Homo sapiens: one gene and its partners. The protein of the gene in region 2 interacts with the protein of the main gene of each other region in a biochemical or structural test. Each region holds a gene or a part of one and is shown on either strand. Other genes may lie near its edges. The genes, in order: MAP4K1, NCK1, FASLG, SOS1, PXN, SYNJ1 and DNM1.

What was found.
Region 1: the proteins of NCK1 (region 2) and MAP4K1 form a complex in vitro, tested with the Homo sapiens proteins (2 studies listed by BioGRID, with this or other methods).
Region 3: the proteins of NCK1 (region 2) and FASLG form a complex in vitro, tested with the Homo sapiens proteins (2 studies listed by BioGRID and IntAct, with this or other methods).
Region 4: the proteins of NCK1 (region 2) and SOS1 form a complex in vitro, tested with the Homo sapiens proteins (2 studies listed by BioGRID).
Region 5: the proteins of NCK1 (region 2) and PXN form a complex in vitro, tested with the Homo sapiens proteins (one study listed by BioGRID).
Region 6: the proteins of NCK1 (region 2) and SYNJ1 interact in a test that uses a peptide from one of them, tested with the Homo sapiens proteins (one study listed by IntAct).
Region 7: the proteins of NCK1 (region 2) and DNM1 form a complex in vitro, tested with the Homo sapiens proteins (one study listed by BioGRID).

The regions. Positions count from the first base shown.
Region 1 is NC_000019.10:38,603,285-38,607,953, reverse strand, and holds part of MAP4K1 (mitogen-activated protein kinase kinase kinase kinase 1), read left to right. Parts: intron 1-42; coding exon 43-90; intron 91-938; coding exon of another isoform or gene 939-1,058; intron 1,059-1,738; coding exon 1,739-1,781; intron 1,782-2,223; coding exon 2,224-2,386; intron 2,387-2,462; coding exon 2,463-2,545; intron 2,546-4,669. UniProt on the Homo sapiens protein: Serine/threonine-protein kinase, which plays a role in the response to environmental stress. Appears to act upstream of the JUN N-terminal pathway.
Region 2 is NC_000003.12:136,920,715-136,925,383, reverse strand, and holds part of NCK1 (SH2/SH3 adapter protein NCK1), read right to left. Parts: intron 1-4,669. UniProt on the Homo sapiens protein: Adapter protein which associates with tyrosine-phosphorylated growth factor receptors, such as KDR and PDGFRB, or their cellular substrates. Maintains low levels of EIF2S1 phosphorylation by promoting its dephosphorylation by PP1.
Region 3 is NC_000001.11:172,664,067-172,667,872, forward strand, and holds the end of FASLG (tumor necrosis factor ligand superfamily member 6), read left to right. Parts: intron 1-267; coding exon 268-324; intron 325-1,555; coding exon 1,556-1,950; 3' UTR 1,951-2,810; downstream 2,811-3,806. UniProt on the Homo sapiens protein: Cytokine that binds to TNFRSF6/FAS, a receptor that transduces the apoptotic signal into cells. Involved in cytotoxic T-cell-mediated apoptosis, natural killer cell-mediated apoptosis and in T-cell development.
Region 4 is NC_000002.12:39,018,883-39,023,551, reverse strand, and holds part of SOS1 (son of sevenless homolog 1), read left to right. Parts: intron 1-326; coding exon 327-982; intron 983-4,669.
Region 5 is NC_000012.12:120,255,108-120,259,776, forward strand, and holds part of PXN (paxillin), read right to left. Parts: intron 1-4,669. UniProt on the Homo sapiens protein: Cytoskeletal protein involved in actin-membrane attachment at sites of cell adhesion to the extracellular matrix (focal adhesion). Recruits other proteins such as TRIM15 to focal adhesion.
Region 6 is NC_000021.9:32,643,784-32,648,452, forward strand, and holds part of SYNJ1 (synaptojanin-1), read right to left. Parts: intron 2,820-4,669; coding exon 2,610-2,819; intron 2,007-2,609; coding exon 1,863-2,006; intron 1,224-1,862; coding exon 1,185-1,223; intron 1-1,184. UniProt on the Homo sapiens protein: Phosphatase that acts on various phosphoinositides, including phosphatidylinositol 4-phosphate, phosphatidylinositol (4,5)-bisphosphate and phosphatidylinositol (3,4,5)-trisphosphate. Has a role in clathrin-mediated endocytosis.
Region 7 is NC_000009.12:128,213,379-128,216,878, forward strand, and holds part of DNM1 (dynamin-1), read left to right. Parts: intron 1-3,500. UniProt on the Homo sapiens protein: Catalyzes the hydrolysis of GTP and utilizes this energy to mediate vesicle scission and participates in many forms of endocytosis, such as clathrin-mediated endocytosis or synaptic vesicle endocytosis as well as rapid endocytosis (RE).

The DNA of each region.
Region 1 (4,669 bases), on a different chromosome or scaffold from region 2:
ATGTGGACAAGGCCCCCAAGGCTCATACCTGTCACCCTTCAGGAAGCAACTGTCAGAGTCGTCTGACGATGACTATGACGACGTGGACATGTAAGTGAGGCCCTGCCTGCAGCTCCACAGGCCCCACCTCAGCCCCCACCTTCCTACAATCCCCTGATGTGGCCTTTCCTCCACTCCTGACCCCGCTGCACCCCTGCCTTTCTTCTAGCCCCGAGCCCTGAGCCCTGATTAGACCCTCAATGCAGCCCCTCTGCCCAGCTACCTAGGCCCTGTTCCCTAACCCCACCTCCCTTAACCCTTCACCTCCAACCCCTGACCCCCAACCTGATCCCAGCTCCAGCTCCCACTTTCCTTCTTTCCTTCCACCTTCTTCTTTTTTTTTTTTTTTTTTTTTGAGATGGAGTCTCACTCTGTGGCCCAGGCTGGAGTGCAGTGACGTAGTCTCAGCTCACTACAACCTCGGCTCCCCGGGTTCAAGCGATTCTCCTGTCTCAGCCTCCTGAGTAGCTGGGATTACAGGCACCTGCCACCATGCCCAGCTAATTTTTTGTATTTTTAGTAGAGATGGGGTTTCACCATGTTGGCCAGGCTGGTTTCAAACTCCTGACCTCATGATCCGCCCATCTCAGCCTCCCAAAGTGCTGCGATTACAGGTGTGAGCCACTGCACTTGGCCTCCTTCCATCTTCTTATACAATCTTTTGACTTGACCCTCAGCGTCAGCCCCCCACCTGCTCTCCACCCCAGAGCTGACCCCAGTTCCTTCTAGAATGTGCTGCTGCTCCAATCTCTGACTTGACCCCACCTATCCTCCATGACCCTGCACCCTCAGCCACATCCCAGTCTCAAACTCCTCCCGAATGTCACTCTCACCCCAGACCCACCCTCCAGCCTTCAGCCCCAGCCCTCAGCTTTTCCTATCTTTTTGCCCGCCCTCAGGCTGAACCTTGGCACCTGGAAATCTCCCAAAGACCAGATACTGAGCCCCAGATCCAGACCCAACAGTCAGCCCAGGCCCCCATACTCCCCAGCCCACAGGCCGAGTCAGGCTCCATCCAGGTGCGCGCACTCACTTCACCCATCACGTGCGACAGCCTGTGTGTGGCGCCAGCACAGGGAGAGCAGGGCCACGGCGCTGATGTCACCTGTGTTACTAGGTGGTGTAAAGGTGCAAAGCCGTGGTGCACTGTCAGCACTCCACCTCCAAGAGTTGCTGTTACTGTTATTAGTCTTTTTTTTGGAAACAGGCTAATCATTTTTTTGTAGGATGGGGTCTTGCCATGTTGTCCAGGCTGGTCTCAAACTCATGATTTGTTTTGGCACCAAGGCTAAGTGCAGGAGTGCAATGATGGCTTACTGCAGCCTCAACCTCCCAGGCTCAAGCAATCCTCCCACCTCAGCCTCCTGAGTAGCTGCGGTCACAGGCGCACCTGCCACGCCTGGCTAATTTTTAATTTTTTTCTGGAGACAAGGTCTTGCTATGCTGCCCAGGCTAGTCTCGAATTCCTGGGCTCAAGCCATCCTGCCCTGGCCTCCCAAAGCACTGCGATTACAGGCATGAGCCACTATGTCCAGCCTGGCTATTAATCCTTTAATCCTCTGCTCCAGGCAGAACCAGTCATCCCTTAATCCTCCTCACCTCAGACCCCAGTCCCGGGCCTCCAGCCCAGAACCATGCCATCTTCCCCGAGTCCTTGTTCCCCAGCCCCCCAGCTATTTAACCCATCTTTGTGTTTCAGCCCCACCCCTGCAGAGGACACACCTCCTCCACTTCCCCCCAAGGTAAGGCCCTGGGCCAGAGCTGGGAGGCTGGGGCCTCAGGGCCACTGGGGGCCAGGAGGCCAGGTCCTTAGATGCTGGGATACTGGGCTCTCCAGGGCAGGGAATTGGGGAGACCAGGATGATGGCTACATTGGGATCTGGAAGTGGCATCCCTCAACCTCAGGGTCGGATTCAAAATATTTAGCCTCTTAGACACTGGTCAGTAGCTGGTCCTAGGAAGCCCCTGCTATATATCCAGCATTAACCCATTAGTTTCTGAAGTGTGTTGATGTCCAGGCTGGGGATGTCAGGGGAAGGCTGGAGGGGGCACAAGATGTTGTCGGGGGGGTGGGTCAGAGCCACAGCTGTTAGTTCTGGTGGAGGCAGGGACTTGAGTTGCAAAAGGGTGCCCTCTCTGAGATCATCTGATGTATTTCCCCACGCTCCATTCCCGTCTCCAAAGCCCAAGTTCCGTTCTCCATCAGACGAGGGTCCTGGGAGCATGGGGGATGATGGGCAGCTGAGCCCGGGGGTGCTGGTCCGGTGTGCCAGTGGGCCCCCACCAAACAGCCCCCGTCCTGGGCCTCCCCCATCCACCAGCAGCCCCCACCTCACCGCCCATTCAGGTAATGGGACAGGCTAGGGTGGAGGGCGGGAGGGTTGGGGGTTCTTGGGGGCTGATTTTCTCCTAACCCCTCTCAGAACCCTCACTCTGGAACCCACCCTCCCGGGAGCTTGACAAGCCCCCACTTCTGCCCCCCAAGAAGGAAAAGATGAAGAGAAAGGTGAGGTTCAGCTCTGCTGAGGACTTACACCTCTGGACGGGGCTGGGGATGCCTGGTGGGGTGGGGAGGGGGTGGCAGGACTGACAGTAACAACAGGTGACATTTGTTGAGCGCTTCTCTGTGCCCTACACTTATCTCCTATCATTACATGGCATAAAGCTTCACAGAGTGAAGAAGATATCACAGAGATGTTATCCCCCATTTCACAAATGGGGAAATTGAAGCACAGAGAGGGTAAGTGGCTTACCCAAGGTCATATAAATACCTTTGAGGAGGCAGGCTGAGGCAGGATTGTTGTTTCTGCTTTTTTTTTTTTTTTTTTAAAGACGGAGTTTTGCTTGTTGCCCAGGCTAGAGTACAGTGGCGCGATCTTAGCTCACTACAACCTCCGCCTCCCTAGTTCAAGTGATTCTCCTGCCTCAGCCTCCGGAGTAGCTGAGATTACAGGCAATGCAGCACCATGCCCGGCTAATTTTGTATTTTTAGTAGAGGTGGGGTTTCACCATGTTGGTTAGGCTCGTCTTGAACTCCTGACCTCAGGTGATCCACCTGCCTCGGCCTCCCAAAGTGCTGGGATTACAGGCATGAGCCACCGCGTCTGGCATGCTTTTTTTTTTTTGAGACAGAGTCTCACTGTGTCACCCAGGCTGGAGTGCAGTGGCGCGATCTCGGCTCACTGCAAGCTCCGCCTCCCAGGTTCACACCATTCTCCTGCCTCAGCCTCCCGAGTAGCTGGGACTACAGGTGCCCGCCACCAGGCCCGGCTAATTTTTTGTATTTTTAGTAGAGACGGGGTTTCACCGTGTTAGCCAGGATGGTCTCGATCTCCTGACCTTGTGATCTGCCCGCCTCGGCCTCCCAAAGTGCTGGGATTACAGTCATGAGCCACCGCGCCCAGCTACTAAAAATTTAAAAAATTAGCTGGGCGTGGTGGCACACACCTATGGTCCCAGCTACTTGGGAAGCTGAGGTGGGAGGATTGCTTGAGTCCAGAAGTTAGAGTCTTTTGACAAGATCCATCAAAACCTCCATGAGTCACTACCACATATGCAGTTGCCCAAAGAGCCAAGATCTCAAGAAATTTTACCTCTCATAAATGGAGATGTACAAAAAGAACATCTCTTTATTCAGGAAGTTTCAGTGTTTTTACGTACATGCATAATGCCTACACACGTAGTCAGTGTTGTGATAATGCACCTTTGTGGCATCAAATTTGCCAACAAATGCATAAAATGAATTAGAACTCTCTAAAGTCTTTTTTTTTTTTTTTTTTTTTTTTTGAGATAGTATCTCGCTCTGTCGCCCAGGCTGCTGGAGTGCAGTGGCGCGATCATGGCTCACTGCAGCCTTGACCTCGGAGACTCAAGCAATCCATGCACCTCACCCTCCCTAGTAGCGCTTGGCTAATTTTTTTTTTTTTTTTCTGAGATGGAGTCTCACTCTGTCGCCCAGGCTGGAGTGCAGTGGTGCTATCTTGGCTCACTGCAACCTCTGCCTCCCCAGTCTAAGTGATCCTCCTGCCTCAGCCTCCTAAGTAGCCATGACTACAGGCGCCCACCACCACGCCCAGCTAATTTTTGTATTTTTAGTAGAGACGGAGTTTTGCCATGTTGGCCAGGCTGGTCTCAAACTCCTGACCTCAAGTTATCTGCCAGCCTCGGCCTCCCAAAGTGCTGGCATTACAGGCGTGAGCCACCGCGCCCGGCCCAGCTTGGCTAATTTTTAAAAAAATGTTTTATAGAGGCAGGGTCTCACTATGTTGCCCAAGCTGGTCCTGAACTCCTGGGCTTAAGTGATCCTCCCACCTCGGCCTCCCAAACTGGTGGGATTACAGCCGTGCCTGGTTGGCTACCGGCTAAAAGTATGTATAATTTATACCTCCAGCACTGGAAATGATTCAAAGATGAAATGCATAGCATAATTAATCATACATATATACATATACATATATACACACACATATACATGTATATGTGTGTATATATGTATACGTGTATATATATGTATATGCATATATATGTACATGTGTATATATGTATATGTGTGTATATATGTATATGTGTATATATGTATATGCGTATATATGTACATGTGTATATATGTATACATGTATGTGTGTGTGTA
Region 2 (4,669 bases):
TTCTCAGAATTGCATGTGGATCTATAATGATCTCAAAATAAAAAGTTTAATTAAAATAAAAACTGAAAGAGAAAACACAAATAGTCAAAAAGTATTCAAAAGATCCTGAATATCTTTATAATTAAAGAAATGAAAACTAAACTGAAATACCACACTTTACCTATCAGGGTGACAAAAGTATTACCAATATTATCTAGTCCTCCCCAGAATGTACAAAAATAGCATTCTACTACATTACTGGTATAATAACTAAAAATTTATATAATGCTTTTAAGTTTTATAATTATGGCACTTTTCAACATTTACAGAAGAGAATAGTATAATGAATCCTATACCTATCACCCAATTTTATCAATATTATGCCTTGTGGTTCAGCTATCCCCCTAATTTTTGGTGGGGGAACTGGAATCCCATGATTTCATTAAGCACTAACAGATTAAAAACCCATACCCCTCAAAAATGAACAAATCAAGGGCTCCTGACCTTTTCCCTTTTTTAACCCATATATGCCGGAGGTTGCAATTTCTTGTGTGAAAAATCAGACCTTGGTGACGACCTTGAGCATGATATAAATAACTCTCACAAGCTTAGCGTTCCAATAATGGAACACTAGGCACAAATGGGTTAAGCCATGGACCTCCCCTCCTCCTGCCTAATGGCAGTGTGGTGAAACATAGAACCTCTACTCACAATGTTTCTGATGCATAAAAATATATAAGATTGCAAACAAGTCAATTATACTAAAATTAAATTATCAGTATATTTTCAAAAGCTCATTTTGAAAAGGTGTTCCTTTATTAAGAACTCCTGCAACACTTATTTCATCTAATGCTAATATTCAATTTTTGCTAAGTGTATTTTTTTAAACATTCTTACAGTTGGTGTGAACTGGGATCCAAACTAAGTCGATATATTGCACTTAAGCTAACATGTTTTAAGTCTCTGACACTGTTCTCTTTCCCCACTCTATGTCATTTATTTAAGAAGCTGGCTTCACTTGTCCTGTAGCATTTCCCACATCGTGAATTTGGCTAGTGTATATTTTCATGGTGTTCCTCTATCCCCCCTATCTCCTATAAACTGGTAATTATTTCTAGAGGCTTTACTTTTTCTAGGTTGTTTTGTCATTGTTGCAAGAATAATTCGTTAAGTATTCTTGTGTACTTGTTATTGCCATTTATTAGGAGGCACATTATGTCTGCCTGAACCATTTTCTGTGATGTTAAGACTGAATGGTAGATTTGTAGCACTGAACTGATTTATCCATTATTATAAAGTTCCCCCATCAAACCTCTACCCAATGGTTTTACCTGCCACTGATGATCACTGCCTAGATCAACTATTTCAATAATGATGATGTGCTAGCTCTACCTGCTTTCAGAAACTGTGATTATTCTCAAAGGAAAATTTTGCTTATTGTTCTATTACCCTAAAACATAAAACCTTACAGAAAAGGTAGAATATATACTTCTGTGTGGTTATGACACCAACTGGACGTAGAGTTAGGCTCACTTGTTTTCATTTTTTGAAGATCACTTTATTTTCCCTTTTTAAAATGTAATTGTTTCATAATTATGTAAAACATTTGGATGGTTCTAAAAGCTAAACTATCAAGCAAGGTAGATGTTTAAATATCAAACATGTTTGAACATTATGTTTAATATTGTTTATATGAATGTTTAAACATTAAATATGCTTAAATATCAAACATATTTAAAACATTTAGAGAGGTCTTCTTCCATACCTTCTCTTTTCTCTCCCCTCTCCCATCCACCCCACTGGACAGCCATTTATTTATTTATTTATTTATTTATTTATTTATTTGAGACGGAGTCTCGCACTGCACTGTCACCCAGGCTGGAGTGCAGTGGAGCGACCCTGGCTCACTGCAACCTCCGCCTCCCAGGTTCATGGCATTCTCCTGCCTCAGCCTCCGAGTAGCCGGGACTACAGGTGCCCGCCACCATGCCCGGCTAATTTTTTTGTATTTTTAGTGGAGACGGGGTTTCACTGTGTTAGCCAGGATGGTTTCGATCTCCTGACCTCGTGATCCGCCTGCCTCGGCCTCCCAAAGTGCTGGGATTACAGGCGTGAGCCACCGCGCCCGGCCTGGACAGCTATTTATTTGTTTTGGTTTATGTTTCTATTTTTTTTTAAATAATTTAAGGAAAGTATTCAAGAAAAATATATAAGAAAATTGAAAATTCTAATTTTTATCTACCCCCACAACAAAACATACACACACACATGCACACAGGCGCGCACACACACACACACATACACATAGGCATAGACTATATTGCCTGAATCTTTTCATTTTCAGTTTAACAATCTATCCTTAAGATCATTCCACAGCAGCACATGAGACTTCCTTTACTAATACATCTACTACTTCTAACAATTGCAGAGTGCGTCATCATTATGTAAGTAGCACTTTCTTCAACTAGACCTTACTGATGGTCAATGGGTTGTTTGTAATTTTCTGGGATTAAATAGTGCTGCAATGAACAGCCTCATACATGTGTCATTTTGATTTTCTGTTAGTGTACCTTTGGGTTAGAATCATAGAAGAATGCTGAGTTACAGCTAAAGTTTGTATAATTTTGTGAGATACTGCTAAATTCTGTATTCATAAACTATTTTTAAAAACTCCTAACAATATATCAGTGATTATTTCCCCACAGCCTTGCCAACAAACTATGTTGTCAATCTTTTGGATTTTTGCCAATCTAATAGGGGAGAAATAGTATTTCAGAGTTGTAATTTGTATTTCTCTTATTACAGTGATTTCTTTTCCCATATTTAAGGGACATTTACATTTGTTTTTCTGTGTAAAGTGCTTGTTCATATCTTTTCCCCATATCCTAGAATAATGACTCCAACTCCATCAAGTTCCTTACCTGAAAAGGCTCCACATGGCCAGAATTTACCGTTTGTTCCAGCCAAAACCTGGTGATAGGCAGATGGTCACCTGAACCCCCATTTAGAGCAGTTACCTTAGAAAGCTTGAAATTATAAATCCTTTCTCTGTCCCTTTGTGACTTAAATCTTCTACCATCAAGAACTATCTTCCCAAGGACCTGAGAACTACCTCTTTGGAATGCAAACAATCAAAAAGATAACTTTCACTTTTGTTCCCAGTCCCTGGCGAGAGGGTAAGGGCCAAACATTGGTGGGCCTAATTTGTACCACCACCTCCTGTCATAAATAATAAGTTTGTTTCTCTTCCAGATAAATGCCAATAACAAACCCAGATGGCCTACTCACATGGACCACCTATTGCCCTTAAAAACCACTCAGTGGCCGGGCGCGGTGGCTCACGCCTGTAATCCCAGCACTTTGGGAGGCCGAGGCAGGCAGATCACGAGGTCAGGAAACTAAGACCATCCTGGCCAACATGGTGAAACCCCGTCTCTACTAAAATACAATAAAATTAGCTGGGCGTGGTGGTGCGTGCCTGTAGTCCCAGCTACTCAGGAGACTGAGGCAGGGGAATTGCTTGAGTCTGGGAGGCGGAGACTGCAGTGAGCTGAGATCACGCCACTGCACTCCAGCCTGGTGACAGAGACAGACTCCGTCTCAAAACAAAACAAAAAAACCATCTTTCTTTCCCTTAGCAGTGTCTTTCCCTTAGCATACTCAACCTTTAAAAAAGTCTCTTCCCCTTTTGTTTTGGCAAAAGTGAGTTGAGTTCACACTGGACACTCTTCCCTACTGCAATAGTTACTGAATAAAATCTGTCCTTACCATTTTAACTAGTGTCCAGTTTATCTTCGACATCTATAATTCTAGTTATGGACCAACACAAGTACTGGGCTCTCCCAAATTGGACATGCATAGAATATCCAAAGAAGCATCACAAAGGCACTAAGAAATGAAGTACAATATAAACACCACTCAAGCCCCACACATCCCTGCATAAAGCAAAGATGCAAATACCACAGCAAAAGTTTAGAAAATGAAACCAATATTGGAACTACTGCCCACAGTTCCTCCGCTTCCTAGATCCTATGTCTTACTTTTTCTTGCTTTACCCTTCATTTTGCTGGAGCACGTCCTCTAGTTGTTTCCTGAGTTAAAAATATATTGGAATTAAATTTTTTAGAATGCATATCTGAAAGTGATTTTGTTCTCTCATACATGACTGGTAGTTTGGCTATCTATATACAGGGGAGTTACTGTTTAATGGGTACAGAGTTTAAGTTTTGCAAGATGAAGATTATTCTGGAAATAGATGGTTGTACAACAATGTGAATGTACTTAATGCCAATATTTCTAGCCAGGTGAACCAGGAAGAGGAGTCATAAGGGATTAAGGTCCATCTTAACGACCTCATTTTACCTCAGTTACCTCTTTAAAGACACTATATCCAAATATAGTCACATTATGAACTACTGGGGGTTAGGACTTCAATGTGTGAATTTTTGAAGGGACAAAATTCAGTTCATAACATTTGTTTTTACCACAATTTTTTAGAAATTTAAAAATATGATTACAATCAACTATAAGGCCATTTATGTTTAATTCCCATATAGTATATAAGACTTAGATCAATTAATGTACTTACATGTTTGCTGTGTTAATTATGACAATAAATTCATTATGTTACACGTTTTCATAATTGGTGGTTTATATCTAATTGCTCATAATTTAGCAAGATTATTGCTCT
Region 3 (3,806 bases), on a different chromosome or scaffold from region 2:
ATAAATGTTTATATTAATTATGTTTTATTGTAACATTATAATTTATACATATGTCAATCTTAATTTGGTTTATTTTTTTACCTCTTTGTTTCTGAAATATAGACTACTATGAATCCTGCAGTTCAGACCTACATGATTAGTATATGTTAGACTGTTGCCATTTACGGTTTTAAAATCTTTTTTTTAAAATGATTGGATTTAAATTCCCACCAAAATAATAGTTGCTATTTCATTTTAACATATATTTTTCCTCTCTCTATGATACAGGCCACCCCAGTCCACCCCCTGAAAAAAAGGAGCTGAGGAAAGTGGCCCATTTAACAGGTCTGTATCTGGAAGGTACAGGTGAGATTTGGGAAAGCTTTTGGCAAAAGGCAAAATGGCTGCCTGGTTTCCATTACCAGGCTCTAGAGAGTTGTTACTTCCTGGAGACAGTATTTGAACCCAATAATACTAACACTTTTCTTGTCGAGTCAGTCTTATGAACACACTTTGATCCCCTATTCTCTGGGCAAGGCCCTCTTCTAAATTGGAGACCTGGAGCTGATTATGACATGACCCCTGCCCATAAGAAGCTCATTCTTTTCAGTCATTCCAAAGTCCCTTGGGGGATTGGGGGCACAGATCCAAGAGGTGAGAGATGAGAAGGTGAGGAATGAGGACTTATTTTAGTCAGTGCTTTCTTGGTTTTCTGGAAGAGCTTCACTCTGCTTTGTCCAAGAGTATAAATAGGAGTGAGAAGGGAGACTCAATCCTGGCACTTGTAGAGTTTCAATATGTGCCTGTAAAGTGGAGTGAAATGATATGGTATGGGCACTCCCATTATAAACTACATAAATAATGGAATAAATATCACAGAAAGTGGTAGGCTATTGTCCCTGGAATTATTTAGGCAGAAATTATAGAATGATCCGGTCACATCAGCAGACACTTACTGAATACCTGCTGTGTGCCAATTTGGGGATGTGAAGATGAGTAGCACATGGCTCTTGCCCCCAGGGAGCTTGACATCTAATAGGGAAAGACAGGCACTTATGATAATTTCAGTACTTCAGAGATTTAGGTTATGTTCATGATGTTGTGGGGATACAAAGAAAAGGGAACTGTACCCCAAATTGAGGGGCTGAATAATTCTTACTGCAGGTGAGAAGATGGACCAGATGGTCCCTAAGATCCTTCCCAACTTTAGAACTTTAGAGTTCCTTGGATTTGGCTTTTTCCTTCAGGAAAGGACTTCAAAGCCTAGCAGATTTGGTGCTAGTTCTGAAGATAGTAAAATCTTTGTTCCAGAGAGCAAATATTTTCTCAATAATTTCTTACTGCAATGGATTACGGGTATATACTATTGTTCCAATTGTGTGGATGACAAAATAGGACAACGTTGTTGAGGAAATTCTGTGATGGATCAAGTTCTGACCCCTCAGCCAGTTCTATACCAGCTGTCATTCTGGGTGAAACATTTGTTGAAGGAAGGGCCCACAGTTTTGCCTTAGAAACTTAGTTTGTTGGATGCATGACTATTCCTTGTTGAAAGCTCCTTTTGGATTTATTTCAGGCAAGTCCAACTCAAGGTCCATGCCTCTGGAATGGGAAGACACCTATGGAATTGTCCTGCTTTCTGGAGTGAAGTATAAGAAGGGTGGCCTTGTGATCAATGAAACTGGGCTGTACTTTGTATATTCCAAAGTATACTTCCGGGGTCAATCTTGCAACAACCTGCCCCTGAGCCACAAGGTCTACATGAGGAACTCTAAGTATCCCCAGGATCTGGTGATGATGGAGGGGAAGATGATGAGCTACTGCACTACTGGGCAGATGTGGGCCCGCAGCAGCTACCTGGGGGCAGTGTTCAATCTTACCAGTGCTGATCATTTATATGTCAACGTATCTGAGCTCTCTCTGGTCAATTTTGAGGAATCTCAGACGTTTTTCGGCTTATATAAGCTCTAAGAGAAGCACTTTGGGATTCTTTCCATTATGATTCTTTGTTACAGGCACCGAGAATGTTGTATTCAGTGAGGGTCTTCTTACATGCATTTGAGGTCAAGTAAGAAGACATGAACCAAGTGGACCTTGAGACCACAGGGTTCAAAATGTCTGTAGCTCCTCAACTCACCTAATGTTTATGAGCCAGACAAATGGAGGAATATGACGGAAGAACATAGAACTCTGGGCTGCCATGTGAAGAGGGAGAAGCATGAAAAAGCAGCTACCAGGTGTTCTACACTCATCTTAGTGCCTGAGAGTATTTAGGCAGATTGAAAAGGACACCTTTTAACTCACCTCTCAAGGTGGGCCTTGCTACCTCAAGGGGGACTGTCTTTCAGATACATGGTTGTGACCTGAGGATTTAAGGGATGGAAAAGGAAGACTAGAGGCTTGCATAATAAGCTAAAGAGGCTGAAAGAGGCCAATGCCCCACTGGCAGCATCTTCACTTCTAAATGCATATCCTGAGCCATCGGTGAAACTAACAGATAAGCAAGAGAGATGTTTTGGGGACTCATTTCATTCCTAACACAGCATGTGTATTTCCAGTGCAATTGTAGGGGTGTGTGTGTGTGTGTGTGTGTGTGTGTGTGTATGACTAAAGAGAGAATGTAGATATTGTGAAGTACATATTAGGAAAATATGGGTTGCATTTGGTCAAGATTTTGAATGCTTCCTGACAATCAACTCTAATAGTGCTTAAAAATCATTGATTGTCAGCTACTAATGATGTTTTCCTATAATATAATAAATATTTATGTAGATGTGCATTTTTGTGAAATGAAAACATGTAATAAAAAGTATATGTTAGGATACAAATAATTTTTAGAATTTACTAATATTTGAATTTTTTGCTTATTATTTCTTTCCTCCTTGATTTCTTCATTCATTATGATATCAGACCACTTTTAAGAATAATTTACTGGAGTGAGAAGAACTATGAATCAAATCTTTCTGCCTTTGCTAGGCCTTCCTTCTCTCTATATATTCTCTTTCCTCTTCACCTCCCAGAGTTTCCATTACCAATATTATGACCAATGTTAAGCTTAGCCAACTTTCCATAGATTTGATGAGAAATTATATTTTCCTGAAGGCAGAACCATGGCACAGTGGAAAGGGCACATATTTTGGACTAAAAAACTTAGATTTGAATCTTTGTTCTTCCACGTACTGCCTATGTAAGCACTGGTTAGGTCACTTGACCTTCCTTGAACAAAAAAAGAGCTGAAAGTATCAGACACATAGAACATCAAAAAATAGTGTCTGCCACTACTAAGCCACTCTATTAGAGCCACTTCATTCTCCAGAGGCCACTGATCTGTGGGATCCATCTAAGCACCTGGTTTCTTGTATTCTCATGCTTGTCATTCACAACGGCCTTTTCCTATTTTCTTCAACCACTCACTATCATGGGCTCTCCCTAGACTTTGTTATCATTAAAAATTATAGTAACTCCTTTGGAATTTGATTTTAGGTGTCTTATTTTCACAACATCATCTTCTATTATTCCAGCGGAATTGGTCCAACATTTTCTTTTCTAAAATATTTTTGAAAATATTGAGACTTCTAATTAATAAACTTTATTATTTTCTTATATACACATCAGCTCCTTCCACGTCTTCACTTCTCTCTATGTCCAGCATAAATGTCATCATCTGTCATGACAACCAGCACCTTGGAAAGACTCTCAACTCCAAAATACTCTCTTCCTCCAATGTATTCCCCTTGCAAAAATCCTATTTTCTTTAAGCTGTCATCCCAGAAGCTGGATGTTGCTGGACAAAAATTACACAAACAGGCTGCCTAGTTTTAGTTTAT
Region 4 (4,669 bases), on a different chromosome or scaffold from region 2:
AGATTACTTTTTTTTACTGTATTGGGCTACTTTTTATTAGTTGTCATTCTAAATATTTAGTAGCCAAGATAGAAATAATCATTTTGTAGTTACATTTAAGGAGAATTTTGTCAGCAATCATTGTGCTTTTTAGAACACTGAAAAAAATTTCTAGGTTGCTTTAATTTTCAAAATTGTGTAATTTTGTAATTCTAATCTATTTGGGGAATTAGTGAATACCTTCTCAGTGAGACTTGTAAAAATCTACTTTTACACTTTCCCTTACTTACATGAGCTCTAGGTTTTCTGTCATCTATGTACTAATAATGTCTTTTTCTTTATTCCAGTGAATCTGCATGTCGGTTTTATAGTCAGCAAATGAAGGGGAAACAACTAGCAATCAAGAAGATGAACGAGATTCAGAAGAATATTGATGGTTGGGAGGGAAAAGACATTGGACAGTGTTGTAATGAATTTATAATGGAAGGAACTCTTACACGTGTAGGAGCCAAACATGAGAGACACATATTTCTCTTTGATGGCTTAATGATTTGCTGTAAATCAAATCATGGGCAGCCAAGACTTCCTGGTGCTAGCAATGCAGAATATCGTCTTAAAGAAAAGTTTTTTATGCGAAAGGTACAAATTAATGATAAAGATGACACCAATGAATACAAGCATGCTTTTGAAATAATTTTAAAAGATGAAAATAGTGTTATATTTTCTGCCAAGTCAGCTGAAGAGAAAAACAATTGGATGGCAGCATTGATATCTTTACAGTACCGGAGTACACTGGAAAGGATGCTTGATGTAACAATGCTACAGGAAGAGAAAGAGGAGCAGATGAGGCTGCCTAGTGCTGATGTTTATAGATTTGCAGAGCCTGACTCTGAAGAGAATATTATATTTGAAGAGAACATGCAGCCCAAGGCTGGAATTCCAATTATCAAAGCAGGAACTGTTATTAAACTTATAGAGAGGCTTACGTACCATATGTACGCAGGTAAGAATTATGCAGTTGCCTGTCACTTTTGTTTTCCTGCTTCAAACTGATTTTCTTTCCTGCATGGGTTTATTGTGCCTAAAATAGAAAAGAAACTAACAACCAAAGACCTCTTTTCTTTGACTAAAAATACCCCACTTTATATTTCTTTGGAATGTTTTACTTTTTCTACTACACTTAAATACTTTTTTTTAACCTTACCATCAGTTATAGATGAGAAAATGAGGTCACTTGGCTAAATTTATCCAGTTAGAAAGTGACAGAAACAAGACTAAAGTTAGTAGTAAATCATCATTATTGGGATCTAAAAAGTTTTTTACTCCTTTATCTTTTTTTTCTTTCTTCTTTTTCCATTTCTGAGATTATAAATAAAAATTTTAATATAACAAAATTGTGCTGGTAGTACAAATATACACGGCATTGCTTTCTCTCAGTTTCCACTCCTAAACCTGATTATTTAATAATAAATGTTGCAATCCTGGAAGCCAAGGATTCCAGTTTTATTATAATTTTTCACCTAGAAATGTCTATAGTCAGTGTATTTATTTTACTGACCCAAAAATTTAAAAAATCATAGGAAATGTAAATAGGCTGCCTAGATTTTACATGAAAAACAAATAGGTTATTGTCATTTTTTTCCATATAAAGCTGTTTTTTGAGAGGTACAATTTTTCGGTAGTATGACCTGCCGATTTAGTTGTGCTTCACCAACCTTTTCTATGTTCTTTATGATCTAGACTACAACTATAAAAATGTTTTTTATTCAGTTACCCAAAATTTGTGATTGCAAAATACTTCTTTTCTGCTTAAGAGATTTTTAAGGCTATAAAAGTTCAAATTGCCCTTCTTGCCACATTTTCCTGGTTTTTAAGTCCCCTTAGAGGACTCATAGAATTTTTATAACATGAGCATTCTAAACTTTATCATTTCATCCTAAGTACTTTTGTTTGGGGTTCCTAGACTCATTTGGAGTAAAATTAATCTTTAGATTTTTCTCTGTGTTTGTAAGAAAGAAGTTTTAATTTTTTTTTTTTTTTTTTTTTTCCTGTAGAGCATTGTAAGAAGACTTACTACTAGTGTTTACTGTCACAAGTCAGTGATACTTGGGCAGGAAAACATTTTCAAATTACAAAATTTTTAATTGTTTCTGTAAGACTTGATTGAGTGATAGAAGTTTTCTCTAAATTGCTATATTTCACAAAGTTAATTTATGATTATTAATAAGCAGCTGAAGAATGGTTACAACTATTGTCTGGGGAACTGTCCCTTTTATTTATTTTTTTAAATGAGGACACTTTAAAGCAAAATTAACTGGAACAAGCTGATACTTGTTTTGTAGTCCTGAAAGTCTTCTTTCCTTAATGTGTACAATGTTAGGTAAAGTCCGTGGACATGGTACTTTTGTAATGATGTTTTATTAGTTATTTCTGTCTGATACTTCTTTTCTATATCAATTTTTAGCTTTGGTATAGAGTAATATTTTGAGTGCTTTTACTTATAATGAATATAAAACACTTAAATTTCAAGATTTATAGAACTTTGCCAAAGTTAAGTGTATTGAAAATTTAAGTTGATGAGATTATTTTACTTAAAAAAAATGTTTTTAAAAAATTCCTTCCAATAATTTTTTGAGAAATAAAAGGCCAGTGTTGTGGCTAAGTTTTTTGATATTTTTCTTTTCTGTCTTCTTTTGAAGCTTAACTGAATATTTTAATTTATGTCATAAATATATTACTGGTGAAACTGGAGTCTACAAGCAGCTTTCGTGAGTTGTGGTTTACAGTACACACACATTAGTGTTAACTGTTAGCTTATTTGGGCTATTCTGTAAGGTCTGTTACTGAAGTTATTACTGGCAACATAGAATGGTTTTTAATAGACCATCTGTGAACTTGTAAAACTGAAATGGACTTTTAAGGCCTCACTACAATGGTAACAGATCAAGTTACCATTTGTTTTTAAGAACTACTGGTCTGCTCTTCTCCTCTCATCTTTCTTCAGCCTCCCCAAAGAGAAAAGGGATTTGTGATTTGGTTAGTAGGTATGTTTATTGGAGAACATGCAGTACAGGTTGTGGCTTACACTGAAACAAAGCTAACATTTAACTTACACATTTTTATTTTATTATATAGAATTGTAATAAAAGACATTGGATATAATACATGAGAAAATTTAATGAATACTATAAGACACGACTTACAGACATCTTTTAGATTATTATAGTTTGGTTAGACATTGTCATAAAAACAGAAGAGAAACTGGTTTAACCTTACTTTATTCAGACTTCACTGTGGTGTCAGCCAACTTTATCCCTCAAATATTTTAACAGTAATGTACAAAATGGAGCTATAGATCTCTAATGCTAGAAGAGATGCCCAAGCCTTCACTTTGTAGACAAATCCCAAGGCCCCTGAAGATTATATGATTTCCCAGAAGTTCTATTACGAGTTAATTCCAGAACAAGTCAAGAATTAGGTTTCTTGACTCTAAATAGAGTATATTTTCTACCATGTTACATTGACTCATATAAGGTGATTGTTTTCATGAATAGAATATGTTGTAATTTTTTAATTATATGTGTTAATAATTAAGTAAAAGGATCTGGTACAGATGTGAGCTCAAAAAAAATAAATAAATTACTTCCTTGGTTTGAACTGCCAATAATATAAATGGCTTGTTCATTTCTGGGCAAACGTGCGTACTATGAAGATATTGTCAGTAATTTTTTTTTCTTGAAATAGGATATAGGTAAGCTCTGACTATAGATACACTTCCATTGGAATGCATAGATTTTTTATGTATAGATACTGGTCATTATTATTATTTTTATTTTTTTACAAAACCCAATTATTAGTCTATTGATGTAGTTTGCTCACTAAAGGGAAAGCTTTGTGGAAAGAAAAATTTAAATTTAGGTGAATTAGAAAGTGGTTAACTTGCTTAAAAGATTGCAACAGGGTCTTAGGTGGAATCTAATTTATAGCTTGTCTCTCAGATTCGGTGTTTCTGGATGTATCATAATTTGCTGACTATATCAGAACTTTGGGGTTTGTCCCAAAAACTAGGGGAAAAATTATCCAATTGGATGGATCATTCTAAATCTGGCAATGGTATGAAGAGACTATTTCCTTATCCTAAGTAAGAAAGCACAAAGCAATATGCACAAATAAAAAGTTGAGAGTAGGAATTTCACGTCTGTTACAGAGTTGTTGTAGGCAACAAAGTACAAGTTAATGAGACCTAAAACAACACGAGTAGATAAATGGTAGGTGGTGCTGTGTCCAGTTTGGTAGTCTATTTTAGAAAAATGAGATGACCCTGAAGTAAGGATAATAATTCAGAATTGACATTTTATGGGAAATAAAAGCTTTGCATATTGAAGTGAGGGAAAAGGTGTTTCCCTTGCCTGGGAATTTCTCTTTTCCAGAAGATGGTATTGAAAAAACTTAAGCCAGAAGATCGTTTTCTTTAAAGTATTTACTGCTATTTTATACCTTCATAGGGAAAAGCCTCAAAAACCTGAATTAGATTTATTTTGAGTTTGTGTCCTATATAAGCTCAGTTTCGGTGTTTTAACTTATTTAAATCTTTTGAACAATTTTTCATCTATAGGGCAGCGCTGTTCTATTTTTATACTCTCTGATTTTTTAAAAAAGTGTTTGTGCGTCAGCATAGCGTCTGTTTCCT
Region 5 (4,669 bases), on a different chromosome or scaffold from region 2:
GTGGAAATATAAATTTGGGAGTCACCAGCACACAGGTTATAAAAGAGGTCATGCAGTTGATTAACTGACCGAGGTGCATAGTTGAAAAACAAGGAGTTCAGAGAAATCCTTTGGGAAAACACCCAGGTGCACCTCCACTCAGGGATCAGAGGAGACTTGGGAAAAGAAGGTGGGAGGGTCTCTGGAGAAGCAAGCGGAGCTTAAGGAAGGGAGAAAAAAATATGCAGCTAAAGGGTGAGACAGGTGTCTCAGCAAAAGAGCAAACGTGGAAGAATGGGTCAGACTGTGTTAAAATTTAAAAAGGAACAGGCCGGGCGCGGTGGCTCACACCTGTAATCCCAGCACTGGGAGACCGAGGCAGGCAGATCACAAGGTCAAGAGTTCAAGACCAGCCTGGCCACTATGGTGAAACCCCATCTCTACTAAAACCACAAAAATTAGCTGGGCATGGTGGCGGGCGCCTGTAGTCCCAGCTACTCAGGAGGCTGAGGCAGAAGAATCACTTGAACCCGGGAGGCGGAGGTTGCAGTGAGCCAAGATCATGCCACTGCACTCCAGCCTGGGTGACAGAGAAAGACTCTGTCTCAAAAAAGATAATAATAAATTTAAAAATAAATAAAATAAAAAGGAGCAAAGTAAAAAAGTTAGTAAGTGCAGGTCAGGCACAATGGCTCACATCTGTAATTCCAACACTTTGGGAGGCCGAGGTGGGCGGATTACCTGAGCTCAGGAGTTCGAGACCAGCCTGGCCAACATGGCAAACGAAACCCCATCTCTACCAAAAATACAAAATTAGCCAGGTATGGTGGTGTGTGCCTGTAATCTCAGCTACTGCGGACTGCGGGGGGTTGGGGGGGGTGGGGCGGAGGCAGGAGGATCGCTTGACCCTGGGAGACAGAGGTTGCAGTGAGCCAAGATCATGCCACTGTACTCCATTCTGGGCGGCAGAGCAAGACTCTCTAAAAAACAAAACAAAAAACTGAAGTTAGTAAAAGCAGAAAAGTAAAAAGAGGGAAACAGGCAAGACACATGGTGGCTCACACTTATAATACCAGCACTTTGGAAAGCCAAGGCAGAAGGATTGCTTGAGGCCAGGAGTTCGAGACCAGCCTGAGAAACATAATGAGACTCCGGCTGTATAAAAAATAAAAAATTGGCCAGGCATGGTGGCACGTGCCTGTAGTCCCAGCTGCTCAGGAGGCTGAGGGCAGGAGGATCGCTTGAGTTGGAGGTTACAGTGAGCTGTGATCAGATCACTGTACTTCATCCTGGGCAAGAGAACAAGACCCTGTGAGAAAAGAGAAAGAAGAGAAGAGAAGGAGAGGAGAAAAACGGAACCAGAAGAAAAAGGAGAGCCAGGTGGACCTGCAGATGGGGACATCGGGGCCACATGGGGCCACAGCCATCTACACTGACAGAAGATGATGACCATGAGGTATAAAAGGGGGTAGAAAGATGGGGACGTGGGGGGTGGAGTAAAGCGTGAGCAAATAGAGGCCATCCTTGAGGATCTGTCTACTATGTGCTAAGCACCTCACTCAGTCTCCCAACAATGTGGAAGGCAGGCATTACACCCATTTCATAGCCTGCTTTCAATAGGGTTTTTTTTTGTTGTTGTTGTTGTTTTTGAGACGGAATCTCGCTCTGTCACCCAGGCTGGAGTGCAGTGGCCTGATCTTGGCTCACCGCAACCTCCGCCTCCCAGGTTCAAGGAATTCTCCTGCCTCAGCCTCCCGAGTAGCTGGGATTACAAGCATGCGCCACCACGCCCAGCTAATTTTGTATTTTAGTAGAGATGGGGTTTCTCCATGTTGGTCAAGCTGGTCTCGAACTCCCAACTTCAGGCCTCAGGTGTTCCACCTGCCTCAGCCTCCCAAGGCTGGGATTACAGGCATGAGCCACCGCGCCTGGCCTCAGTAGGGTTTTTATGTTTTAGAAGAGGCCAAAGTCTCCAAGGCTCATTCAAAACAATACACACAGACCGGGATCCAGAAGAGAATCGGCCTGAAGCTCCCTGGAGCTCCCTGGAGGGTTCCACCCCCCTTGCTCCAGCTCACCCAGAGTTCTACGATTCAAAACAGCTGGAAATGTGTGCCCTGCTCTCCCCAACAAGAAAACAGAACAGAACATGGCTGTTTCTGCCAAGCGAATTCTGAATAAGCTGCATTCCATTTCATTAAAACAATTACCTGAGCTCCAGCCAAGAATTACATAAAGCTTCCTCCCAGCATCACCCCCTCCCCCATAAAACACACATCATGCTGCTTTCAAATAGGCAGAGTGAAGCTCTGAGCCCTCGCTAGAAGACCTCATAGTCCTCGCCAAGTGGCCAGCCTCGGCATCTCTGCACGCTGACATAGATGACATGAGGCTGAAAGAAGACCTTGGCATGAAGCCCTCCCCTCATGAGAGCCTGCTGGCTGCCCGAAATGTTTCTAGTAGGCACCAGGGCCCTCACCTCTGCCTCAGAGCCAAGAGGGCCACTGGTGCCAGAATCCAGCTATTTCCCCAAAACAGACTGGAGGTCCAAGAGGGCCAGCTTTGAGTCAGCACAAACTAGACAGGAGGGACCAAGGGAGTGGGGATTCCAGGAGGGGGAGCCTGAAGGCTGGAAAACTGGATGGTCAGACTTGAGCTATAAGCAAAAGCCTGGGGACACTCAGCCATCACTGCCCACAGGTTAATGGTGTTCCACTGGCCACAGATAAGGGGTTCATGATGTGAGGCAAAAGACATCTCCTCCCCGCCCACAGGCCTCAAGCTGCCCAGAGACCGTTCCCTGAATTATGTAAAGCCTTGCTGTGGCTGGGCACCGTGGCTCACACCTGTAATCCCAGCACTTTGGGAGGCCAAGGCGGGCGGATCACCTGAGGTCAGGAGTTCGAGACCAGGCTGGCCAACATGGTGAAACCCCATCTCTACTAAAATTACAAAAATTAGTCAGGCGTGATGACGCACGCCCATAATCCTAGCTACTGCGGAGGCTGAGGCACAAGAATCACTTGAACCTGGGAGGCAGAGGTTGCAGTGAGCCAAGATCACACCATTGCACTCCAGCCTGGGTGACAGAGTAAGACTCCGTCTCAAAAAAAAAAAAAAAAGTCTTGCTCTGCATCCCATCAGCCTAGACAACCCATCTCAAACTCCAACCAGAGTTCGGCATCTCACATGCTTCAACCCTGGTCTGATTAATGTCATCATGCTCAAATAACTCATGAGGCTGCCTCCACACCTATGGACACACACTGTCTCTGGGCCTGTCTTTTTTCTGCACAGGTCACAGCACTGTGCTCCCCATTTCCCAGATGATAGTCAGCAGTCACTGTCACCTGAGGCCCCCCCAGCTACTGTCTCTGCTCACCCAGTCTTCCCACCACCTGCTCAATCACAGGAGACCAGCAGTCATTCAGGCCAACCATAGGCAGGCGCAGGCCAGCACCTAGGCCCAACAACTCCAAGCCCATCATGGAAAAGCAGGGTTTCCTTACTTTTCTCCAACTTTTCATTATAAAAATGTCTAAGCACACAGAGAAGTTGAGAGGCCCGGGTACTCTCACTTAGATTGAATGGCTGTCATTGTTTTACCACTTTGTGTAAACGCATGGCCCTTGTGCTCTCTGCCCTTTATGTGTATATCCTTTTTTTCATTATATCATTTAAAACTAAGTTGAGCTGGGTGCAGTGGCTCACACCTGTAATCTCAGCACTTTGGGAGGCCGAGGTGGGTGGATCACCTGAGGTCGGGAGTTTGAGACCAGCCTGACCAGCCTGACCAACATGGAGAAACCTGGTTTCTACTAAAAATAAAAAAATTAGCCAGGCGTGGTGGTGCATGCCTGTAATCCCAGCTACTCGGGAGACTGAGGCAGCAGAATCGCTTGAACCCAGGAGGCAGAGGTTGTAGTGAGCTGAGATGGTGCCACTGCACTCCAGCCTGGGCAACAAGAGCAAAACTCTGCCTCAAAACAAACAAACAAAAAAAAACAAATAAAACTAAGTTGAGGCCAGGTGGGGTAGCTCACACCTGTAATCCCAGCACTTTGGGAGGCTGAGGCAGGTGGATCACCTGAGGTCAGGAGTTGAAGACCAGCCTAAACAATATGGTGAAACCCCACCTCTACTAAAAATACAAAAATTAGCCGGGTGTGGTGGCATGCACCCATAGTCCCAGCTACTCAGGAGGCTGAGACAGGAGAATTGCTTAAGCCCAGGAGGCGGAGGTTGCAGTGAGCCAAGATCGCGCTGCTGCACTCCAGCCTGGGTGACAGGGCAAGACTCTGCCTCAAAAATAAAAAATGAAAAAATAAAAATAAGTTGCAAGACATCATGACACTTCACTCCTAAATACTTTAGCATGCACCTAACAATAACAATATTCTCCCATAAAACCACAATACCACAATCACACAAGAAATAAGCATTAAAAGTCCGTCTTTAAGGGAAGATTTGGCCACTGGGGTTCCACTGGGCCTGGCCAACCGCATGTTCTGTCTACCACTGGCCCAGCATCCAAGGCCTCCCTGGAGAGGCCAGCCCTGAGCACCACTGGTTAGGCAATCGGTTAGTTAGTTGGAAGACTTATCAGGGTATGAATGTACACTCAAGGCCAGATATGAGACTCCCAACAAGACCCAGACTGCAAAAGGCAGAGTGGACCCCGTGAGGCTGT
Region 6 (4,669 bases), on a different chromosome or scaffold from region 2:
CAAGTAAAAACTCTGATATTTGATAGTCAAAAGGAAAGAAATCATAAATTTCTATGAGACTACGTAAGTCTTTTGAAGTTAGTTTTTGATGCATTAATTTTAAAAACTCTAATGTACTATAATGACGTAAAGGAATTATTGTTTATAGGATGAAAAAACATGTTGCAAACACTACTTACAAAAGAATTATGAAGGGGAGCAATTTTTAAAATTAAGACAGATTTCACTGTAATCCACTGGCTTGCCTAACTTTTGACAGATTCATTTTAAATTTATTTTCTACAGGATGTTTTCCTAATTAAAGCAGAAGATAAGCAAAAATTATCATGGAAATTTAAATAAAAGCAGGAGCTTGAAAAGGGAAAAATTAAATGTTTTCTATAAAAGCAGGAGCTTGAAAAGGGAAAAATTAAATGTTTTCTGTAGGTCAATGGAGAAATGATCACTTAGCTGTATTCGGCAGAAGCTGTAATGCTGAAATAATTTAGCTATTCTTATCACACGCAGTCATTAAGATCTACACACAGGCAAAGTCAGTCTGTAGTAAGACCTGAATTGCTCAGCCATGTCACTAGGCAAGCTACAATAGAAACAGACCAGGCTACACATGCACAGTGAGCCTTAGTAACACTGGATTTGTAAAAGTTCTTCTGAGGAATTGTGAAAACTCATCTCATCTTTTCTTGAGATTTAGATTAAATAAACTTGTCAAATGTATAACTCCAACTGAGCTCTGTGAGTTTTCATGTAAACCAAATAAACTATACTTCAAACAAAAAGTGACCCTTTGTGAATAAAAATTTCCTTATGAAGAAAGGAAAAGAAAATCATACAGTTCTTTGCTAATCCAAAAGCTTTTCCACTAGAAAATAAATGTATCACTAATCAGATACTTGGGAAATGTTCTGTATTTACTGTACCTGAATGACTTTTAAAATTAATATAACTTTTGGGTATTAAATCTTTGTAAATGAATCGACCACATTTATTAAAAAAAAAATTAGGCCTGATGAACAATCCCAGCCTACCTGGGAAATGAAAGCCTTTATTAGTTTTATTTGTGGATTAGTTTTAAACTAGAATGTCATTCATTTTGACTTTTATCAAACAAATCTAAAATGTCTTTCAGGTGTAAAACATTAATGAACCACGATTCACACATGCTAACAAATGTAAATGGTTACCTCCAAATTCCTTTCTAGTGGGTGCAGGACTCCTAGCCCCTTATAGTTCATAAGAAAATAGGCAGCAGAAAGGAAATGACATTAAATACAGAAGTGAAATGTCAAAGATTGCTATAGTATCCATGACATCAAGTATCATGCAGGAATTACATATTATCTACGTACTACAAAAACTATTATTCAATGCATATGCTTATAATTGAAGTAACAGCACTATATTTAATTTAAAAGAACATTAAACAAATACATACAATTGTACATTAATACGTATGCTCTCCAGTTTTATTATACTTTTACAGAAATTAGTACATTTTAATTATTTTATGCTTATAAATCATCCAGAAATGAGGATTTTGAAAAAAATTAAACCTAATTTTACCTAAGAACAGTTTACATGCCTAACTAGATCAAATTAGCAAAAACAAAATAAACCTCTCTGGCTGGCTGGTGAGAAGGCAGCTAAAGGCAGCTGTGAAAACACCTTAGAGGAATCTACTCTGCAAACACTCTACCTTGTCTGTTGCGCCTACCATGTTCTTTAGAGAAAAGCTAAGAAATAGCAATAATGATAGAAAAAACTGTAAAATCCAGAAGCTAGAGATTGGAAAACATGCAAAACATTTTAAAATAGAGTGAAGAATTTTACATCTAGCAGAAATGGAAATAAAAGGTTGTCACCTGAAGGCGGAGGAGGTCTCTGTGGGGGAGCCGGGCGTGTGGGAGGGGCGACCGGGCGGGGCGGCGGCGGCCGCTTGGGCTCCAAGGGCTGGGCGGGGTCTTTCTGCGGCAGCGGCGTTGCTGGCTGCGCGTCAATAGGAGAACCTAAAAAGCGCACAGGAGGTAAGAAGATCAGCTTCTAAGTAGCTGTTGACAGAAGGGAACAGTCCTTCATATATATGTGTAATGTTCTATAAAATGTGCACAATGGTGTAAAGAAAGGGCATGTATTTTCAGTATGAATAACAAAAGCAGTCTACTATTAAACTGCCCTTTGGTACCATGGCAGCAATAATGCTACCTCTGTGCTGACTTCTTACCTAGGCCTCAGGTGCTGAAAGCTAATTTACTAAGTGGCCCTATTGATATGCACAAAGTATTGTTTGAGTTAAGCCATTTTGTAGTCTGGCCAGTAGAGAGAAGAAAAAGCTCAAATAGTTAACGGGTTCATACCATAGAAAATCATCAGTTATAAGACATAGACAAACCTAACCACATAGAAAAAAGATTAAGAACAATTGTCATCTAGTGACAGTTATAGCAAGTTTCCTTTCCATTGAGAGCTTATCATCTACAAGTTTTCCTATTCTGTACCGGAGAAAACAGGGTGCACTTTATCACCTAGGTATGAAACTTAAACGATGACTCTCCAACATCAAGCACATTGGCCACAGGAAGCCATACAAAACTTTCAAATAAAATGCATACTCTGTGCACTGGGAGGCCCAGGAGTTCTTGACGGTGCTCGGCTTGGTCTGATGGGAAGGGAAGGTACAGGACCCTCTGATATTGTAGGTGACTGGCAGGGACTAGTTCGGGGTGAAGAGCTGGGGGAAGTACCAAGGCCGGAACTTGAAGATGGCTGGAGATGCTGAGGAAGAAGTTCCTCCACTTCAGCACTATAGTCATCAACATCACCTAAGGAAAAGCAGGCTTGATCAGAGATAACTCCATTTTAACTTGCTCAGAGATTTTTTTCACCTTAGGTTTTAAAAAGTTAAAATACACAAAACAAATATGAACATTATGTCATTGCAAACACACATGGATTAAGCATGAAGGCATGTATAAAACCACAATTAGTAGAAATGCTTGTTTCAGAAGATGTAAAGGTATCTATTGTCTCTGAGCAATAAGATGTCAGGTGACCAACCACTTGGAGCTGGGGTGACCCAATGGGCTTTCAATATGCCCCAGAGCAGCTTCTCCAGTGCAAGCCAACTCAAGTTTCCTGCTCTCCTTCCAAACCTGTCCACTGTGCTCTGTGGAACTGCCCCACTCCCTTGCCTAACCCAGGTCCAGCCTCAGAGTCAACAAGCTCTCAGGAGCCACACAGTCTTCCCCCAGAAGGCTCCTCCCTGCAACCCTCACCCCACAAAGACCCGCTTTGCTTTAATTAAGTAAACACTGGTTCTCCCCCAGGGTCTCCTCATCTCCACTTACTTCTGGGTAGGAAAGTGGGCACAAGGTAACCCTTGCAACCTAACTGCCATTCCAGAACATTAGTCTTCCAACCCTGAACAAAAAGTCCTACTGCTCTGAGGCTATGCCATCAGGAATTTATGTAACATCCTCTACCCCCACTTGCTACAGTCATCTCCAACGTCCATTCTTCCATTTCCTGAACCCACTCACTGAGGACTAAGCAGAGAGCAAGACTGTAAGTCAGGTCCCGCACCATCTTTCTGCGTGGCATCAAAGTCCATGTGGACAACTCGTTCAATAGCAAAATGCCTTGGTCCTATCCTTATGGACATTCGCCTTCACTCCTAACCCTCACCCCTCAGAACTGCACTCTTCTGAAATAATAAACTCAAAAGCTTCACTCTGACTTTGGCCTCCCAGCTTTTCAGTTCTCTCCCTTGGCTACTCCTTCTCTTTTGATTTCTTCAGAAGCCAGGGTTTGATCCCTCTAACTTTTACCTCCATCTGATTCTGCTTTCTTCTGTACCTACCTTCAGATTCTATGGTTCTTCATCTCAAACATTACCCTACTTCACTCTTCTTCCATTGCACGTGCTTGACATAACCCCATCCCTGCACTGATTCCCCTGTTTAATCTTTCTGTGATAACACTTGGATTGCTGACTGCCTCTGCTAAAGAAAACCACCCAGTCCTGACAACTGCAGTCACATTTGAAATTATGCTTTTCAGTCTCTTCTGGCCTAAAGTGCCTGGCAATTCCATGATTTGCTGGTTTGCTCTTCCCCTCACCCTTTGCTCTTCAGGAGCTTTACTGCAAAACTCCTTAACCCTCCTGAAACTGTGAGCTGTCCCACTCCTGCAGATCACTTCAACACTTCACAGAGAAGAGGGAAGTCTTAAGATGGGAACCCCTACTTCAACAGCCTGCCCCCAAGCTGGAGTCTCATTACATGGTTGTCACTTGGGTATCTGAGGATGGAACAAATGGGCCCCACCCAGCCTAATTTTCTCAGTGACACTGCTCTACTATTCTGCCTTGCCCTTCCCCCAAACCATCAGCCCTTTCTCCTCTACTTTTCCATTAGCACTGTGCATTCTCAAGCCTGTCCCATCCAAAACCACCACCCTAGGACCTCCAATCTTCCTAGAGCAATTGCCCTCTTCTCTTTCCCCCCAAACTTTCTTAAAGAGTTGTCTACAGACACTTTTCTCCACTTCTTCACCTTCCATCCATATCAATTTACCACTATCTGACTTCATCACTTCTGAGATCACTCTCATGAAATGTCAACAACAGCTTCCCTTCCTGTTATTAAATCAGAAGGACACATTTCTGTCCTCA
Region 7 (3,500 bases), on a different chromosome or scaffold from region 2:
GTCATTTTCTGAATCTTTTAAAATGGAGAACACATGATTTTAAAAATTAGAGGCAAAAGAGATCTATTTCCCTTTTGAAAATACAAAGTCATCAACCCTTGGATTGATGGAAGGGAGGGAGGGAGGGTGGGAAAGAAAGTAGGAAGGATGAGAAGATAAGAAATAAGGGAAGGTAATAGGCTCTGCTTAATAGGGAGAAAGATTGCTGTGGAGAGAGCACCTACCCGGACTCAGGAGCCCTACCTTGTCACCAACTTGCACCATGATCTTGGGCAAGACTCTTCCCTTTTGTGCCTCAGTTTCTACCCTATACAATGAAGCCGATGGTAGAGCTCATCTTCCATTCCCTCTTTTGGTCAGTGCGGGTGTCCTGAGAGTCTGCTACATGCCAGACCCAGGGCTAGGTGCTGGGATATTGTGACAAACAAGTCTAGCCTAGTCCCTGCTCCCGGGGCCATCAGAACATCAAGGAAAGCCAAGGCCAGAACTGCCCTGCAGTGTTCAGACCTCAGCTTGAAATTCATGAGCTGTGACGGGGCTGCCTAGGGTCCCCTGGGGCAGCAGGAACAGAGAGCGACTTGTTGCCTGGGGGTAGCCTCACCTCCTCCCAACTGTATTTCTTGGCCTACCCACTCCCTTGCAGGCACCCCAACTCCCTGCTTCAGAGCACGCCCCTGCCCACCCCCCTTGCCTTCCACCTCCAGGGTCAAGATCTGGCTGGAAATATCCTGCCCTCACCCCCAAGCTCACTGCCATCCTCCAGGAAACCCACCGTCCAACTCTCTCCCCGCTGCCTCTTCTGGTGACGAGGCTGTGGGAGTCCAGCCTGTGGTCTCAGCATGCCCAGCAAGCTATCGTTATTTATAATCATAGTAGCCACGATTGGTTCAGCCATCAGTCTGTATAAGCCTCACAGCAACCCATTTTACTGATGTGGAAACTGAGGCTCAGAGAGGTATGGTCATTTGTGCACAGCCACACAGCTCCTACATGACAGCTCAGACATTCAATGTGGGGTCCATCTGACATCAGAGCCCAAAAAAGAGGAGGCATAGAAGAATGACCGGCACTGGGTGCACGCCCAGTTAAGCACGTTACTTCCTGGGGTCATTTGCATTCAGCAGGGCCTGGGAACCAGGATCCCAGAGCTCTGATCCCAAGTCTCAGGTCCTAGAGTAGGGGTAGGGGTAGGGGTCACATCAGCCCTTGGGTTCAGTTTCTCCAGACCCCTCTCACGGTGACAACTCCAGTTCAGACAGGGAGTGTGGCATTTGGGGTTCCTGAGAGGTGTTTGTTTCGTCCCCTCATGTTTCACGTTTGAAGGTGCCTCTGCAGATGGCCAGGCACAGCCTCCCTGGGAACCCACCATCTGCTCCAAATGAGTGGGGAGAACTGGCATGCCAGCAGCCGCCCCTCCCACGCTGGGCACAGCACGCGGCCTCCGAGGCTGGTGGGCCTGATACTTTTCTCTGGGCACCTGTTCTGTCCTCCCTTAGCCTAACCAGGAGCTGGAGGCTGGATCTAGTCTGGATCCCCACTGGGGAGAAGGAGGGCCACCTAGGGGACCCTTAAACAGAGGGCTAAAGTGGGACAGTGTGTCCAGGTGAAAGGGAAGAGCTAGGGAGCTGCTGAGTCATGCACATTCCTTCTCGTGTTGCCTGCACGCCTACTACGTGCGGGGCCTGTGCCAGGCAGGAACCCGGAAGTGAGTGAGGAGCTCATTGTCCGGACCTGGGGACCTGCTGGTCCTCCCCACTGTCAGTCCAGACGTGAGACTGGGAAGCAGACCTCTCGGGTCCTGGCACCAGGCACCAGGCCAAGGAAAGGCCAATGTAGGATTCGATGAAGGAGCCAGCCTGGCACTGGCTCCTCAGCATGGGGCAGATGGTCCTTAAACTTAACACGGAGTGTGGAAACCACCTGAGGATCCATTTAAAACCCAGATTCTGCCTCCCCATGAAGCCCTCTTGAGATTCTAGCCCAGCATGCCTGAGGAGCATGCGTCTGGACAAACTACCCAAGGCATTCTGATGCAGGCCGCGTGAGGGCCTCACTTTGAGAACCTGGGCCATGACAGAGATGGGCCACCTCCCCATCTGGGCACCAGGAGATCTTGGCTCTGGGAGGGGTTGACCCCCAGACATGGCCCTGCCTCTAGTCTCTGCTTCCCAGAAGCTACTTGCCCTTTAAGTAGCCCTGGGGAGGCAGCAGGCAGCTGGCCCAGACCCTGACCACCCAGCATTCTTGCCAGCTGGGCCCTGGGCTCCCCACACCCGCTATGTGGCACCTTGGAGACCTCCACCCCTCAGGCTCACCAGGGCTGCGTGGGCCTGTCTGCTCAAGGAGAGGCCTCTCAGGGAAGAACTCCAGGGAAAGTCCACGTCTCTGTGTGGGGGACTCTTTGTGGGGAGTCCCATCCTTTCCAGCCCCTCCTGCAGTTTCCATGGCAACTACTGTTGCCATGGTGTTGCTGGTGAGGAGCTGGTGGAGAAGAGGGTGGACCCCCGGCCCCCACACCCACCCCAGCTTCTATGAGAACAGCTGTTCTATCTCCACAGCCCTGGGGGACTCCCAAAACTGGAAGTCACGCCCCCAAAGGAGTCTTTGAGTAAAGGATGGGAGAGATTGAGACCGGAAGTCCTCCCACCCCCCAGCAAACCCCCTCCCTCTGTGCCGCCTGGCACACCTCTGTTCTAGCACATACCACGCTGCATTGCATTATCTGTTTACTTGTCTGTCTCTCCCACCACACTGTGAGTTCCTCAGGGTGGGAACTGTCTGACTCATCATCTCCCATCCCCAGAGCCCGGCACAGGGCCCGGCACAGACTGAATTTAATTGAATTACATAAAAAGCCAAGTCTGGCTTCTTGGGTTTGAGACAGCACCATTGAATGAGGAAGTTTCCAGGCTGAGGGTCCAACAGACACTCAGCTTTGAATCCCCACTCTGCTGTGTGACCTTGGGTGAGTCACTTCACCTCTCTGAGCCTCAGCTGCTTCCTCTGTAAAATGATAATCTCTATATCAGAGCACAGATTCGAGGACTTGGAGATTCAATCAGAATTTATTGAGTGCCCCTTGTGTGCTAAGCCCTGTCCTGGGCACTGGGATACAGTGGCAGACAGAAAGAGGCTGCCCTGCTCACTGTCTGGCAAGAATGAAAAGCATTTGCCTGGTGCGCAGAAATGATGAATATACACAGGGCTTACCATCCTTCTCCTTCTCCAGTATAATTCCTGACTCCTCCCCAGCAGCGTCCACTTCCCCAGACGTGAGGCAGTGGAGAGGCTTCAAGAGGGGGCTTTGAACCTAGGAGCTCTGGGTCTAGTCTGTTGTACCTAAGACCCTTAGCTCCTGACCCTGGGGTGCAAGAAGACTTGTGAGTCTGGGTCAGGCTCTGGGCTGGGAGCAAGAGACCTGGGTTCCACCTCTGGCTCTGTAGAGCTTGAATGTATCTTTTTCCCTCCCTGGGCCTCTCCATGAATAAGGCGCTGGCTGT